Linked DNA regions of Homo sapiens. The protein of the gene in region 1 interacts with the protein of each later gene in a pairwise test. Each region holds a gene or a part of one and is shown on either strand. Other genes may lie near its edges.

Evidence for each region.
Region 2: the proteins of TM4SF18 (region 1) and EFNA5 interact in binary tests that used the Homo sapiens proteins (3 or more experiments, as listed by UniProt).

What each region holds. Positions count from the first base shown.
Region 1 is NC_000003.12:149,317,864-149,321,019, reverse strand, and holds the end of TM4SF18 (transmembrane 4 L6 family member 18), read left to right. Parts: 3' UTR 1-2,522; downstream 2,523-3,156.
Region 2 is NC_000005.10:107,664,102-107,667,937, forward strand, and holds part of EFNA5 (ephrin-A5 isoform 1 precursor), read right to left. Parts: intron 1-3,836. UniProt on the Homo sapiens protein: Cell surface GPI-bound ligand for Eph receptors, a family of receptor tyrosine kinases which are crucial for migration, repulsion and adhesion during neuronal, vascular and epithelial development.

The DNA.
Region 1 (3,156 bases):
ATTACAGTCATTACAAATGATGTTTTTAAAATTATGAATAATGCTACATCAAAAAGCAGGTTACAAATTCATGTTTACTATATAACTATTTAAAGCAAATGAAACACTAATAGTCAAAGTTTAGGATGAAAACTAAATCTAAAAGGAAATATAACAAAATGCCAATTATGCTTGGTTTGGGGCATTGATGACCCTTCTTCCCACTTTTCTATATTTTCCAAGATTTCTTTATTGAATATGTTTTACTATAAATATTTTCTAAACTCATATTTTCACTATTAAAATTTTTTTATTTTTCCAAACTTTAAGGCATATGCTCTTTCCACATTCCTCAACATTATTTGCAAACATCATGAAATGACACTTCCATCAACATTCAATGAGGAAAGTAGTGATATAGATGAGCCAAAAAGAGTTTTATATAAACTTATACAATCTAAACTCTTGCTCTTCCTTTCTGACTCCTGAGGGTGAGTGTGATGGACTAGAAGAGGTAGCCTTAAAATAAGTGAGCAGCTAGGGAACATGCTCAATGGGCAAGAGAAAATGACCACTGACCAGTCAATACCTGTGTCAGGGGGAGTTACCAGTACCTATATTTATTTTTAAAGTAATTAAAAAGTAGAACACTTACAAATTTTCCACCTATACATGCCATGTCTTCCTCGGGGACAGTAGCCACATCTTATATATTTCCCACCATGCATAGGACCCAGCACACAGTGAAGCCAGTAGGCACTCAGTGTTGAATGCTCATACCAGGTTTTCTGCTTCCTGTAGTTACCCTGCTGAGCACTGCTTCCATCACAGGTGCACTGGGCCTCAACACTTCTGCCATTTCCCCATTTGTCTCCTCCATGGACACTGTCAACAATGGTCTGTCAACACCTGCTCTGTGCCAAAGCCAGGGAGTAGGCTGGGGGGATACGGAAGAGAATATCTTTCTCCTTGATGCCTGCTGTGCCAACAGCCCCCTTTAAGCCTTGTTCACAGCCTTTGCTGAAACAAGCATCTTGAAAGCAAGCCATGTTATACACCGCATGACCTTCATGCTCTGGGCCCAGCTGACTGAACTGGGGCAGGCCCCAGAGTCATGGGCAGCCTATTGTCTTGCTAATGGCCTCTGACTTAGCCTGGAGTAAAACACTGTCCAAACAAGACTGGTGGTTATTCAAGCATAAGAATTTGAACTAGGAAGCCAAGAATGAAGCAACCGGACCATTACCATCAAAAAATGATTAAAGGATGAAGAAGGAAGCCAACATTCAGAGAGTATCTGGTTCATGTTAATAATGGTATCATATTAAAAGGAAGATACATGAACTTCTACTCCAAAAGCTCCTAAAACTGCCTTTGCCCACAATGAACAGTGTACCCTAGGCCTGGTTTCTGTTCTTGGATTCCTAGATAGTCTTTCTTCTTTGTCACTGTGCTGATCATTTCAGTAAACCCCCGACTAAATCAGTGCAGCTCTGTTTATTGCAACTAAAACGATCCAAATGAAGTCTCCCTTTTCTAGATGTTGGGTTGGAGGGATGCTAAGACAAAGATGCTTAGGCTCCAGAGTTTTACAGAGCTTCATTCAATAACACTCTACTTTCCAAAGAACTTAAATATGAGGTCTGAAGGACTTGGACCAAGAGGCAAACCCAAGCTACAGACACCATGTTGTACTCAGAGTGACCTCTCCCCTCTGACAGCCCAGGATTTCTCTATCAAGTCCATAAGCTAGTCATATCTAGGACCATCTTGTTAAAAATTCTCTCAAAGTCTCCTCAGCCCTCTTGTAAACAGACTTCTGGAAGGTCCACTTCATCAGTTTGTTATATACTTTCAGACTGTCTATCTCTTGTTTAGATTCAGCATGGCACCGTACGTTGAATGGACTGTTAATAGATGTTTGCTGAATGACTCCACCACAGCATTGGACACATCAGGGGTACAGCCAAATGCAGCATGATACCTCTATCAGGAAAATTAAATTTTAACACAGCCACCAAATATTCTATATTTGAAGAGTATATGCTAATCATGCAATTTTAAGTAAAAAAAAGCTGAATACAAAAAAAGCTGAATATGTGTTTTATATCCTCGTGAATTCAAAGTAAAAAGGAAAAAAAACTCAAAAACCAAATATATGTATGCAGTTTGAGCCCAAATTTTTAATTAAGTAACCATATAATTACATGTAGACATGTATAAACCTTGAGATATGTAAAGACCAGAAAAATATTTAAAAGTTAATAGTTACATCATCTGTGGTCACAACACCCTGAAAATGCCTAATATTGGAAACTTAAGCAGGATTGATCCAGGTTATTACTTGGATGGGAGACCAGATGCTATAGGCTGAAAAAAGAAAGCATAAGTACGCACAAGTTAATACTTAATAATTATCTCCTAATGATAGGACTATAAGTTCTATCTCTTTTCTTTACATTGTTCAGTATTTTCAAATTTCCCTTTGAAAATGTGTTATGTACTTGAATTATTAGAAAAAATAAATGTCATTTAAAAAGCAATGGTCCTCTAATTCTTTCTGTAAAATTCATTTAAGGAGTTAAAATAGAAAATATATATAGGTATGTATATGACTGGCCTTCTCTTACCCTTTCCAGAAATAATCTTTCCACTTTTTAATTCTGAGAGTATTATGAGCTAATCCTGATTGAGAATGATTTATGTTTTATGCATTTCTGCACTTATTATTTATCTACTGTTCTCCTTGCTTCTATCTCATTGTTATTTTCCTAACTTCTTAAATAGAATACCTAGCTTATTGATTTTCTAACTTTCTTTTTTTCTTAAAATAAGCACTTAAGACTAGACATTCTTTAATTACCACTTTGGCTGAATCTCACAAGTTTTAAAATGTTGCATTTTCCTTGTTTGGTTATAAATATTTTCTAGTTTTCTTTATGATTTATTTTTTGATCCATGAGATTTTTAATGTGCTTTAAAATTTCCAAGTATATGGCTGGGCGCAGTGGCTCATGCCTGTAATCCTAGCACTTTGGGAAGCCGAGGAGGGCAGATCACAAGGTCAGGAGTTCGAGACCAGCCTGGCCAACATAGTGAAACCTTGTCTCTACCAAAAATACAAAAAAATTAGCCGGGCATGGTAGTGGGTGCCTGTAATCCCAGCTACTCGGGAGG
Region 2 (3,836 bases), on another chromosome or scaffold:
TATTCAGAAGCCTCAAAAACAAGAATTTGCATCCACTCAAATTTTTCAATTAGAAAATAGCACACGGATTTCAGTTTACAATAAATCCTTTAGAGAGTACAATAAAAAGTACTATCAAGAATATGAAGATATTAGGAATGATTTTACTCAAGATCATGCAAAATAGTTGTAGTCAGAAAAAACTTGATTAATTTTTAATTTTAAGCTAGATGGTCCTGTGTCATTGTGCTCCTTTATGACTGACTAAATTTTGAAAACATAAATGCAGACAAATTTAAGAGGAAATAAATCTCCTAGTAGTGAGTAATATCCTATTCAGAAGCACTGGAAGTTCACATTAATCACAAGAAACTTTTCTACAAAACAGCTCAGGACATAGGTTGAAAAGCAGACTAAAATATAAATTTGATAATATAAATCAGGCCCTTAAAAGAGACAGTAATTTATTGATGTTTGGCTGTCTAAGACCACCATCGTAAGACAAATTATTAAAAGTGAATATTAATACCTCATTTCTTATACTCCTCTTTGAGGATTTTATACCTGAAAATGAAGGTGTTATCCATCACAAATGATCAAAGGGCAATTTTTTTCCTCAGTTCAGAAAGCGGATCTGACTGAGTTGTCCTGGGTAAGAGGCAAGGACCTTCCTCACTGTGCTTAGGGAAATTGAGGCTTCCTTTGCAACATGGATATTCTAATCCGGAATGCTATTTTAACAGTTTGTATACTGCTTCTGAAAAGAAAATTGATAATATAGAATCGTCAACACAGAGTCGTTCATTATTTCAAACAAAATATCACAGCTTTTTAAGTCTTTATTGCTACCGAAGTTATTCAACACATGCACAAAAATGAGGAAGGTTGAGTGGTATCTTATAAAAAATTTTTAAATTTATATTGAAAACACAAACCAATAAGCCACTAGACCAAATGCTACCCAACATGTAAAATTCTATTCTTAACATATTCTCATATTTTGTTCATTTTTATTTTAATGCTTTCTCTCTCTCAAAGGTAAATTTTCTGGCATATACTTATCCCAAGCTAGCAAAGGCCAGAACTCCTGAAGGACTAATTGTATTCATTCATTTTCTTGGCCCAGCGTGAAGCTGGTAGCTTGCTTGGTTCATAGCAACAGGGGAGAAAAGGAGGCGCCCATCTTTATGTCCTTATCCAACAGGAAACCAGGCCAGTGGACAGAATGCAGTGAAATGCCTGTTCAGAAGGTATTCTGCAAGATTAAATGGCAAGAAATTCACAAGGTTAATTTGCACCCAAGTAACTAAGTGTTCCCTCCAAACCTGATCCTCAGCCTTCAAAGGTGGAAGCTTCTGAAGCTACTGTCAGCCACAACACACATGACAACAAGATATTAGTTCAGTGAGCTGATGGTTTAGTTATTACCACTAAAATCACCTAACAGAGAGTAATAAACTACTGAAGACTCTGATACTTTTAATCACTAGTAGTTTACTGACCTTGGTCTTACCCTGAAAATGCCAAATTAGACTGTATAGCCAAATCTGCCTCAAATAGCTCTAATGTTCCTATCATCTAAAAATCAGACAGTTGAGTATTTCTGATAGTTTATTGTGAATATATAAAATAATGAATCAAATAGGTAGAACATATCTTAGTAGCTAACTCTGCTTTTCAAAATTCTATGGAAAACTCACCAAAAAACAGGAATCATACTTCTCTTTTACAAATTTCTAGATTAAAAAGGGGGGAGGGTCAATTCACGTCTCTTATAAACATATAAGCATAAAAACATGGGTTATAAACCTCAATCATACTGCCTTATTTTTAGCCTGGTACTTGCATAAATTCTGATCTAAATTTCAGAGTAACAAAATTACTACCAATACATCTAATAATGTGATACGTTACACTGAGGCTTAAAGTTAATGCCTTTTACTTGAAAAACATTTATGTTTCTAACATACAAAATATTACTTAAAATATTTAAAATTTCAAAAGTAAGGACAATCTAAGTTTTGTGATGAAACTCATTCAAGACCAAGATAAACTTTCAATCTTTACTCACAACAAATTCTTAGATTTAAACCATGCTGATTTCATTTACTTGTCAGTGAAAAGGTCACAGTGCCGGCATACTGGTATACATATGTCAAAATGATGATGGCTCAGATTTTTTTTAAATGGAGCAACTAAATTTTGAAAGAAGAAAAATACTCAAGGGAATATGATTAGGAAAAAAAAAATGTTACTACTTCTCTCTTCTTAGCCACATACATTTGACCTGTACTGCCAGAGGACTTGGGAGTGTTGACCTAGAATTCACATTACTTTCACAACTCCAAGATTACGTGTTAACAAAACTAAAAGGTGTCAATTACCTGCTACTCTAATATGAAATGTTTAATATACAAGTCCCTACAAGAATTGAAAAAGTCCAAAGAAAACATGATTAGGTTAAAGTTTAGTAAATCCTTCATGACTTACACAGATATTTTCCTCTTAAGAGTATAACCTTTTAAATTGATGATACTCAAACCTTAACAGAAGCAAAGCACCAGGTTGAGGACGACTGGTATTCCTAAAAGTGTGTTGGTCATATTTGCTGCTGTATTATTTGACTATTGCATCAATAATGCCAACCAGTAGGAGATATGTTTAATTACCCTAATATCATTTCAGCAAATAGTCAAAATAATCCAAGAAGAACTTAGAATACGCACATGATGTTTAAAAGTATATTCTTATTAGAAGCACCAAACTGCTTATGGCATACTTCAGATGAAGAGGCATGTTCTTAGTATTATGACTCTCTTTATAAGCATAGCTACTAAAGGAGAATGTAAATAAACTTTTATTACTGGAAGTCTTTTTAACTTTATTTAAAAGCTTTTTACATTCTTAAAGAAATTAAGGACAAATAGTTATATTCTTCTTGATGTGGATTTTCATTACTCAAAGTTACTTGGTGACATTCCAGTTTAGAATTCAGAATAATATTAAAAGGATGATTTGATTATTTACACTTTTAGGTAAAACTTATACAAGTTTTCAAATTTTGGAAATATAGAAGATCTATTTAGGCAAATGTTATCATATATTTCTATTCAAACTGATAGTTCTGAGTGGCTATTTCACAAATTTGTGCCAATTCAACACATAAAAAAATCAGTTTGGTCCCCTATCCAATAAATACTACCAACTAAAAGTTATCAGCATTTGAAAACTCAGTATCCACTTCTCAGAAGTGAATACCTGGGTACATAGATTGTAACAGTAAAACTATTCTGACAGCAAATAAATTTAATATTTTTTCCCGTGAAACTACATCTATAGATGCTCATTTATCAATGGAGAGGCAGTAATGAAACTCCATGTAGAAGATAAACTCCTACCAGATACACAAGTGACACAAGTTACACAGTAAGATACTGTACTTAATCCCTGTGATCAAGATACATTTAATTCTGATTTTACCTAAACATAATTTCAAATTGAATCTGTTAGTATAAGCTAAAGTAGATTTACTTCGTTTAGACACAGTGTACATTATCATCAGTTTAACGTGCCCACTGAACATATTATATTCTGAGGGAAAAATAAAAAAAATTATTTAAGTTGCAATTAAAGTCCTCTATTCTTTTTTCAAAAGATTGAAGTCTTACTAGTTTAGCAAAATTTTAACAGATAGGTTCTATATAAAGACACAAAGCATGGCTAGCTTACTTTATGAAATAACATACAGGAAAAGGAATTGCACAACAGTGAATTTATAAAATTTACTAAACCCGTGGAAATTTTCTGAAATATTTTCTTACTATTGTTTGTGGAAAACTGTTAGTTTTTATTTTTAA